Regions from separate parts of the Homo sapiens genome. Here region 2 is reported to be linked to region 1. Evidence: microRNA targets listed by miRTarBase, many of them from high-throughput screens and not tested one by one. Region 1 holds a microRNA gene; the other region holds the end of a gene's coding sequence.
Evidence for each region. Region 1 holds the annotated microRNA hsa-miR-4298 (CUGGGACAGGAGGAGGAGGCAG, at 2,572-2,593, opposite strand). A microRNA usually pairs through its seed, bases 2 to 8, with sites in the 3' UTR of a target mRNA and lowers its output. Matches are read on the target gene's strand: a 7mer-m8 pairs with bases 2 to 8, a 7mer-A1 pairs with bases 2 to 7 and ends in A, and an 8mer does both.

Region 1 (5,075 bases):
TAGCCCCACAGGGGCTGCTGAGGGAGGTTAGGATTGAGGGCTAAGCCCTGGGGCTCCCTCCCTACACCTTCCTGTGGTCAAGACCTGATGTCTGGACCCAGGATCCCTGGGGAGGTCCCCTTCCTCCTGCCCTGGGTAAGGGGTCTGAGGCATCTGGAAGTTTCCCAGGGAAGCAGAAGGATGTCTTCTTCCTCGTGGGCTGGCAGGCGCTGCTGTCCACCGACACCCAGCTGGGCTGGTCGCACAAGTGGGAGCATCACAGGCCCCACCCCCGCTGATTCTGGAAGCCAGAATCCTTTCTTCCTGCGCCCCCTTCCTGGTTCCCTCGTGTCTCCTAAAACAATCCTGGAGCCACACAAGGGCAGTGCCAGGAGGGTCTGGGGTCCAGCTGGGACAGGCCCTGGCCGGTGACACCCTGGGGTGGCAGGATGGTGGGCCTCTGCTCCGCTACCCTACGGGCCAGCCTGTCTCCACCTCAGTTCCCTGAGAACGTGCCAGAGGGATGGGTGAGCCCTAGAGAAGAGGAGGGTGTTGGCAGTGGAAAGGGCCCAGTGGTCTCCCGCTCTGAGTCCTCAGCCTGGTGAGGGGTGGGGGCGTGAGCTCTGCCTTGCAGTCCCAGCCCCTGAGATCCCACTGCTGGGGCGGCGGGAGGGGGATGGGCTGCAAGGCCCCAGGGCTGGCCTTGCTTCGGCTGCTATAGGCCCTCGGAGTGCTTTCTGGATGAGTAAGCCGCACCCCTCTGAAGCCTCAGTTTCCCCATCTGCACACTCAGAATGTAGCCACTCAGACCAAGCGTTCACTCCATGCCAGTCTTTGCCAAGCTATTTATTTATTTATTTGAGACAGAGTCTCGCTCTGTTGCCCAGACTGTAGTGCAGTGACACAATCTCGGCTCACTGGAACCTCCGCCCTCCAGGTTCAAGAGATTCTCCCACCTCAGCCTCCTGAGTAGCTGGGATTACAGGCACCTGCCACTGCCCCCGGCTAATTTTTGTATTTTTAGTAGAGAAGAGGCTTTCACCATGTTGGCCAGGCTGGTCTTGAACTCCTGACCTCAGGTGATCCACCCGCCCCAGCCTCCCAAAGTCCTGGGATTACAAGCATGAACCACCGCGCCCTGCCTTTGCCAAGCTTTTTAAACCAAGGCTCTTGTTTCATCCCCCGGAGCTGTGAGGCAGGTCCCTGGAGCCTCCCATTTCACAGACGGAAACCGAGGCTCACAGGGGCCAAGTGCATTGTCCAAGGGCTGCTCCCTGCCTGGGGAGGGGCCTGAGTCCTTGCCCCTGTGGGGTTCGGGTGCTGAGGGCCCACAAGACCTGCGGGCACCAGGAGGGAGCTGGGCTGGGCTGCCCTTCCCGGGGTCTCTCTGACCCCACACCACACACCAGCCACTCTGGACTCAAAGGCTCCCAAGAGCACCAGAGCACTGCTCATGGCCCAAGCTCAGCAAGCACTTAAAGGGACCGTCCCGAAAAGCGGAACTGGGACCGGGCGCTGCAGGACCAGCAAGGTCCTCCACTTCCCTCCAGCCCAGCCCCGCCCAAATCCCAGCCCTCAGCATCTTTTTGGGGGCCACTAAAGACCTTCTGGGAGATGGCAGCCCAGGACCATAAGGCAATCGAAGAGGGCTTTCCACATGCGCTGAGGCAGACAGAACCAGGCCCTGGCTGTGGACGAGGCTGTATTGATACTTAGAAGAGAGGGAAGCGAGCGGGCTGGAGAGGCTCGGCCAGGGGGCAGCCCAGCAGGGCCCCTTCCCCAGGGTTAGACTCTCTACAGCCGGCCCAGCCCCCATCCCCTCCCCAACATCTAGGGACCTGAAAAGAGGTTGGAGGGGCTGCATGGGGGTGGGGTTGATAGGAGATTAGGGGATTGAGAAAGCCAGGCCTCCTAGCCGTGTCCCACCCAGCACGGCCCCACCAGTGCCAGACACAGGCAGACAAGGGAGGAGGGAGATGCTGAGCAGGGGTGGCAGGAGGAAAGCCCCTGGCCCTTTCTTGGGGCCAGGCAAGTCCTATCCTAACTCCATCTGCTAACTGCCTCCAAGCTGCTTGTGGGTTGTCGGGGAAGGGAGTTTGTGGCAGGGAGGGCCTCTGAGTCCCCTGTATCCCCCGGCAGGAGGAGGCAGGCACATGGGCCCCTGACCTCAGTGCTTGGAGCAGGGCCGCTCTGGTGGGGCATTTGTAGGTCACAGCATGAAGGGTTCCAGCATACTTCCTGGGTTCCCAGTTTCCCTGGGAGCAGTGGTATAGACGCAGGGGCCTCTACACACACCACACGCTCAGGGAGAGTGGCTGAGGTGTCCAGGATACTCTGTCCACTGGGGCAGGGGGTGGCTTCTAAGCCCAGTACCCTTCCCAGAGTCCCCAGTCTCCAGCTGCTCATGGGCTGCAGATGAGGATTCAAGGTTATGCAGGGGTCACTCTCCTGCTCCATCCCTGGCAGGTGGGACCTCACCTACTGCTTCTTTCTGCTCCAGAGAAGAGCACGTCCCCCTCATCTCAAAAGTGCCTGTGCTCCTCCTTCCTGAGTGGAACCTACACTTTTGACAGTTTGGTTTCTGAGGCAAGGCTGCCTCCTCCTCCTGTCCCAGGTACCTCCCCTCAGAAAAGCAATGGGACTTGGGATAGAAGGATCTAGCCAATTCGTTCCAGATGAATCTAGAAATAATCCTTTAGCCTTTCTCTTAGACCCAGTCCCAACCAAAATCTGAGCTTCATCACCACCACCCAGCACCCACCATTCACCACCCAGCCTCCAGCCCCCAGCCCCCAGCCCCCAGCCCCCAGCACCCATGACCCACCACCCTGCCCCCTACCCGTGGCTCTGGCCCATTCTCCTGCTGTCAGCAGTGCCTGCTTGAACAGAGGGCCACACTGAACAGATGCATGCTGCAAGCATTTGGAGGCTGCCTCCTCTTTAAATCACAGACATTTATCCACCAGGGATCACTCGGGAGCCAATGAGGCCACCACCCTGACCTCCCCTGTCCCCATGGGCTCTCTCAGTGCTCAAAGCACCTTTCACTGGGATGCTGCTCTGTGAACATACATTCGCAGGTATGTGTCGGGGATGATGAGAATGTGTCAATATGAAGACAGATCCCTGCCCCTGTAGCCCCTGCTTAGGCTCTATTGAGGTGTTCAGCCTCCTGGGCCATGGTGGTCTGCTTTATCCTTGGGCCATGAGCTTATGAACCATGTCTTAGTTGCATAAGAAAGGAAAAATAAAGATTAGAAAAGAATCAATTATGGAGAACAGTATGAATGAATGGAAAGATGAATGAAGAATGATAGGAAGTAGGAACAAATGGATGGATGGATGGATGGATAATTGAATGATGGATGGATGGATAATTGAATGATGGATGGATGGGTGGATGGATGGAGGGATGAGTGGATGGATAGGTGCATGGATCGATGGACAGGTGGGTGAATGGATGGGCAGATGGATGGGGTGGATGAATGAATGGGTTGGATGGACTCATGTATAAATAGAGTATAACTCATGCATAAATAGAAAGAATTATTTAGTAATTGATGAATGGATGAACAAATGAGCAGATGAACAAAAAATAGATGGATGGACAGAAGAACATCTGTATGTATATATGGATGTTTGGATGAAAGAACGAATGGATGGGTGGATAGATAAATGCAGATGTGATATTTAGAATATTTAACAAAGCATGTGGTACAAATATGAATCTACTGGAATGGGTGCTGATTATATATATTCCTATATTGAACTGTGTTGTACCTGTGCATATTGGCTGATCATCAGCCCAACAGCTAAATGAGCAAATGTACCAAAACAAAAGATGAGTGGATTTATGGATGAATGGATGATGGATGAATGGGTGTATAAATGGGTAAATGAATGTATTGATGGAAGGACACATGAGATGGAATTATGTATGGGTGGATGATTGGATGGCTGGAATATGGACATATAAATGATTGGAAAGATTAATAGAAGGATGTCAGGAGAAGTAGACATATGGATGGATATGGATAATAGATGAATAGATGGATACGTGGGTGGATATAACAAGAGATGAGTAGAAAGATAGATAGATAATGAATCAATAGACAATTGAATCCGTGCTGAGTAAACTATTAGAAAGACGGATGTGTGAGTAGACACTACTAAATCAGGAATTTTGCACTCTCTTCCAGGAACACTTCCTCCCATTTCTCTCATCTCTTTTCAAATAAGAAAAGAATTACTTCTTTCCATGAGGCTTTCATATATAAAGACCCAAGGAAAGAATTACTTATTTCCATGAGGCTATCATACGTAAAATATCAATCCCCTCCAGAACTCCATATGCCTTTACCCTGATTTATATTTTCTGTCATATTTTCCATCATCTGACCTTTATTTATTTATGTGTTTGTTCCCACACTTGAAACATGATCATCATAAGAGCAGGGACTTTGTTAATGCTGAATCCCCAGCACCTTCAAAGTGTCTGAATTCAGTACAGATTTATTGAATAAATATATGGAAGGATGGAGAGACAGATGGATAGACAGATGGATGAATGAATGGATGGATGGATAGATGGGTGGATGGATGGATGGGTGGATGGATAGATGCATGGATGAATGGATGGATAGATGGATAATGGATAGATAAATAGATGAATGGTTGGATGGATGGATGAATGGATGGGTAAATGGATGGATGGATAGGTGAATAGATGGATAAGTGAATGGATGGATGGATGGATAGATGGGTGGATGGGTGGATGGGTGGGTGGATGGATGGATGGATGGATGGATGGATGGATGGATGGATGGATTGGTGGATGAGTGGATGAGTGGATGGGTGGATGGATGGATGGGTGGATGGATAGATGGATGGATGAATAGATGGATGGGTGAATGGATGGATGGATGGATGGATTGATGAGTGGATGGATGGATGGGTGGATGGATAGATGGATGAATAGATGGATGGGTGAACGGATGGATGGATGGATGGATGGATGGATTGATGAGTGGATGGATGGGTGGATGGATAGATGGATGGATGAATAGATGGATGGGTGAATGGATGGGTGGATGGAT
Region 2 (5,071 bases), not on the chromosome of region 1:
ATCATTTCAAATGTTGCATTTATTGTATGTTCTAAAGTAGAAGTCTACAAATTATAATGTAACTAACTCATAGCCATTATTTCTAACCAGTAATTAAATTCTTTTGGTTTTTGTCTAGGTCCCAACAAGCATCAGAGTGCTGTGACCTGTTTACAGTTCAACAAGAACTTTGTAATTACCAGCTCAGATGATGGAACTGTAAAACTATGGGACTTGAAAACGGGTGAATTTATTCGAAACCTAGTCACATTGGAGAGTGGGGGGAGTGGGGGAGTTGTGTGGCGGATCAGAGCCTCAAACACAAAGCTGGTGTGTGCAGTTGGGAGTCGGAATGGGACTGAAGAAACCAAGCTGCTGGTGCTGGACTTTGATGTGGACATGAAGTGAAGAGCAGAAAAGATGAATTTGTCCAATTGTGTAGACGATATACTCCCTGCCCTTCCCCCTGCAAAAAGAAAAAAAGAAAAGAAAAAGAAAAAAATCCCTTGTTCTCAGTGGTGCAGGATGTTGGCTTGGGGCAACAGATTGAAAAGACCTACAGACTAAGAAGGAAAAGAAGAAGAGATGACAAACCATAACTGACAAGAGAGGCGTCTGCTGTCTCATCACATAAAAGGCTTCACTTTTGACTGAGGGCAGCTTTGCAAAATGAGACTTTCTAAATCAAACCAGGTGCAATTATTTCTTTATTTTCTTCTCCAGTGGTCATTGGGCAGTGTTAATGCTGAAACATCATTACAGATTCTGCTAGCCTGTTCTTTTACCACTGACAGCTAGACACCTAGAAAGGAACTGCAATAATATCAAAACAAGTACTGGTTGACTTTCTAATTAGAGAGCATCTGCAACAAAAAGTCATTTTTCTGGAGTGGAAAAGCTTAAAAAAATTACTGTGAATTGTTTTTGTACAGTTATCATGAAAAGCTTTTTTTTTTTTTTTTTTGCCAACCATTGCCAATGTCAATCAATCACAGTATTAGCCTCTGTTAATCTATTTACTGTTGCTTCCATATACATTCTTCAATGCATATGTTGCTCAAAGGTGGCAAGTTGTCCTGGGTTCTGTGAGTCCTGAGATGGATTTAATTCTTGATGCTGGTGCTAGAAGTAGGTCTTCAAATATGGGATTGTTGTCCCAACCCTGTACTGTACTCCCAGTGGCCAAACTTATTTATGCTGCTAAATGAAAGAAAGAAAAAAGCAAATTATTTTTTTTTATTTTTTTTCTGCTGTGACGTTTTAGTCCCAGACTGAATTCCAAATTTGCTCTAGTTTGGTTATGGAAAAAAGACTTTTTGCCACTGAAACTTGAGCCATCTGTGCCTCTAAGAGGCTGAGAATGGAAGAGTTTCAGATAATAAAGAGTGAAGTTTGCCTGCAAGTAAAGAATTGAGAGTGTGTGCAAAGCTTATTTTCTTTTATCTGGGCAAAAATTAAAACACATTCCTTGGAACAGAGCTATTACTTGCCTGTTCTGTGGAGAAACTTTTCTTTTTGAGGGCTGTGGTGAATGGATGAACGTACATCGTAAAACTGACAAAATATTTTAAAAATATATAAAACACAAAATTAAAATAAAGTTGCTGGTCAGTCTTAGTGTTTTACAGTATTTGGGAAAACAACTGTTACAGTTTTATTGCTCTGAGTAACTGACAAAGCAGAAACTATTCAGTTTTTGTAGTAAAGGCGTCACATGCAAACAAACAAAATGAATGAAACAGTCAAATGGTTTGCCTCATTCTCCAAGAGCCACAACTCAAGCTGAACTGTGAAAGTGGTTTAACACTGTATCCTAGGCGATCTTTTTTCCTCCTTCTGTTTATTTTTTTGTTTGTTTTATTTATAGTCTGATTTAAAACAATCAGATTCAAGTTGGTTAATTTTAGTTATGTAACAACCTGACATGATGGAGGAAAACAACCTTTAAAGGGATTGTGTCTATGGTTTGATTCACTTAGAAATTTTATTTTCTTATAACTTAAGTGCAATAAAATGTGTTTTTTCATGTTAGTATGCCTGTTTCTTCCACTGAAGTAATAATCCTTCATTATAAGTATTTAGGATTTGTCTATAATATTTAAATAAGCAAAATCTTGGTTTCTTTGCATCCTGCTGTGTGACATAGAAATCAATACTTCAAGCCTGTTTTATACCGCGAAAGTAAGGATAATGTGCTGCAACTGCAAATTTTATTTCTCTCCTAGACTATGAAGGAGGACACTCCACTGTGCTCATCTCTGTAGATTGCATTGGGGTGTATAAATATGAAATCTGGTTCCCTCAAAGAATCCACAAAACTTTTGTGATAATTACAACTAGAAGCCTTATAAATAACAAATTCATTTTGAAATTTTGACCACATATTAAGTGCTTACCCTCGATACTTTCTGTTCATTCTCTCTTAAGCTCCCACTATCCCTGAGAAGTAGGCACTATTATCTCCCATCTTAAAGACGAGCAAAAATCTGCAGCTGAGACTGGTTAGGCAATTTGTCAAATCATAGAACTAGCGGAATGCCAGAACTCAAACCCATATTTCCAAAGACTAAATACATGCTGCTCTTTAAGAAAGTTTGACAGACTAAAGCAAGGTTTGAGAGGGAAATAAGCCATTTTTCTGGTACTTTCTGACTGTTCTGTAGCCGTTTTGTTCAACAAATCTAAATTTTATAAAATCTAAATTTTATGATGTAAGGGGAAAAAATAAAGTTGTTTTTGAAACTAGTTCTAAATATATTTAGTATCTCAAATAGCAGGAGATATATATATATATATATATATATACACACACATATATATATACACACATCCAGTAATCTCAACTAACCAGGCCGTAGATGAAAATATAAAAGCTACTGAAAATGGACTCCCCTTTTTCTCATAGTCATAAAGTATGTGTTCTTTACTCATAGGGCAAATCCTGGGCCTCATTCTCCCAAAGCTACTAAATCAGAACACCTGGGAGTGTGACCCAAGAACCTGCATTTAAACTAGCTCACCAGGTGAGTTGTGGATACTAAAGTTTCAGAACCATTGCTTTAGATACCATTCCTGTACATTTGGTTATTTGGTTTATTAGTCCACAGCAAATTACAGACACAAAAATAGCAAGGAAAAGTGACAGGGTAAAGGAAAAAAACAAAAAACTACCTGGTTGAATGCAAGGCAAAAATCCTACTAGGCCGTGAAGTGCAGGGTCTTTAGAGTAAACCACGTTACTGCCCAAACCGTGACTACTGTTCACATTGATGACTGTGAATTGTCAAGAAAAAGTTGTAATTCTATTTGATAGTTCTTGAAACTGCTTGATTTTTCATAAGAGCATATAAATGAGGCTTAACTAGAATATAATTGAAGAGAAACATCCATTTTTAGAACTTTAGAGAATAGAATGAGTTCACAGGCTTTGCAGACAAATAGCCCTGAATTCATCTCAGTTCTAGTATGGTCTAGTTACTGGGACCTTTATCATGTTTCTTGACCTCGTGTTTCCTCATTTAAGATGTAGAGGATACCCATCTCCTAAGGTTATTATAAAGATTAGGTGAAACGTAAAGCACATTGCATACCGATGGCATTTAGAGCTCAGTAAATGGTAGCTTCTATTAAAAATTTTAAGTAAATAGACCCAGATAACTTTCTATATTAGAGAATTGAATGTATTTGTTACTCAGATTATGTAATAAAAATAGCATACACATACACACGTGTGCACACACACACACAGCAGTCCATTCTTTTACGTGGAGCCATCTAGATTCTCATTTGAGTTTTACAGAAACCTTGTGAGACAGACTGATATTGAGCACCTAACAGTGGTTTTGTATATACAGTCATCCTTCAGTATTTGGGCGGGATTGGTTTTAGGATCTCCCCAACCTCACCCCCATGGATATCAAAATTCATGGATGCTCAAGTCACTGATATAAAATGGCATAGTATTTGCATGTAACATATACAAGCCCTCCCGTATGCTTTAAATCATACCTAGATTACTTATAATACCTAAGACAATGTAAATGCTATGTAAATAGTTATTATACTGTATTGTTTAGGGAATCATGACAAGGGAAAAAGTCTGTACATGTTCGATACAGACATAGCCACCCTTTTCAAATATTTTTGATTCTCGTTTGGTTAGATCTGTGGATGCAGAACCCACAAATAATGGAGGGATGACTGTGTTTAGGTGTTCATTAAACATCATTTTATGAATAAATGAATAATCTTTATTACAATAAATCTTTGCTTGAAGGGAAAATGTTAGCATCCTTCTACAGGAATCAAAGTATAATTGTTGTAAAAAGGTCACTAAGAAAACTCCATTTTGTGGCCTTTTTAATGAAAAACTTTACCACCTCATGTAACTGTACATTTTAAAATCTTCATAACAGATATAGGCACACTTCATATTTAGATGTTACAAGTTCCCAAATATCAAACATTGCCTGAAACTAAGGCTGAAATTAGGACACAAAAGTAACCCATAAAAGCCAGTAGCAGGTACTTAGTATACTTGTTGAACTGAGCAGAGTTGATTATCTCATTATTTTATATTAGAATTGTTTATAATTTTGACACTTTGAAACCCCCTTATTGAGATTCAATTACCACAGCTATTTCATTAGGTTGCAAAAGCTAATGCCTACCAAATGGTAAGTAAATGTTTCAACCAGCCTTGTTTCATTTCAGAAAAGTAATTGACATTTAGTTATTTGTATTAACTGCTTTAAGCCATTTTCTCTACCAGCTTTGAGCTAGTCTGTTGTAAACTCTTCCATTTCCCTGAATTGATTAGAGGCTACAAAAGACCTCTTTGCTTTTCTCTTCCCTAAAGTGAAATGGGGATCAAGGGCAGCTTCCCCAGACCCAGCTGAGCCCTGGTTTTCTGTACACTTCTCCCTGAGATACACGTTGCACACTGTGAAACAAAGGTACGGAGGTGAAGGAGAGAAGACATCTCAGAGGCGCCTACTCACCACTGTCCTTGCCCCTGTAACTCCCTCTATTCCATGTTGAAACCAGAAACATGAAGCTCCGTTGCTTTGCATAGCAGAAATAGATTCACATT

Region 2: miRTarBase lists FBXW7 as a target of hsa-miR-4298. Seed matches in the 3' UTR shown: 8mer at 1,132-1,139.

What each region holds. Positions count from the first base shown.
Region 1 is chr11:1,856,934-1,862,008 of GRCh38, forward strand. It overlaps MIR4298 (microRNA 4298), which reads right to left and starts at 2,603; the gene lies at 2,531-2,603. All of the region lies in intron 1 of LSP1 (lymphocyte specific protein 1), which reads left to right.
Region 2 is chr4:152,318,197-152,323,267 of GRCh38, reverse strand. It overlaps FBXW7 (F-box and WD repeat domain containing 7), which reads left to right. Exons shown (of 14, transcript NM_001349798.2): 14 at 119-2,724. The coding sequence ends at 387. Among named protein-coding and RNA genes, the nearest start is that of FBXW7-AS1, 17 kb to the left of the region's middle.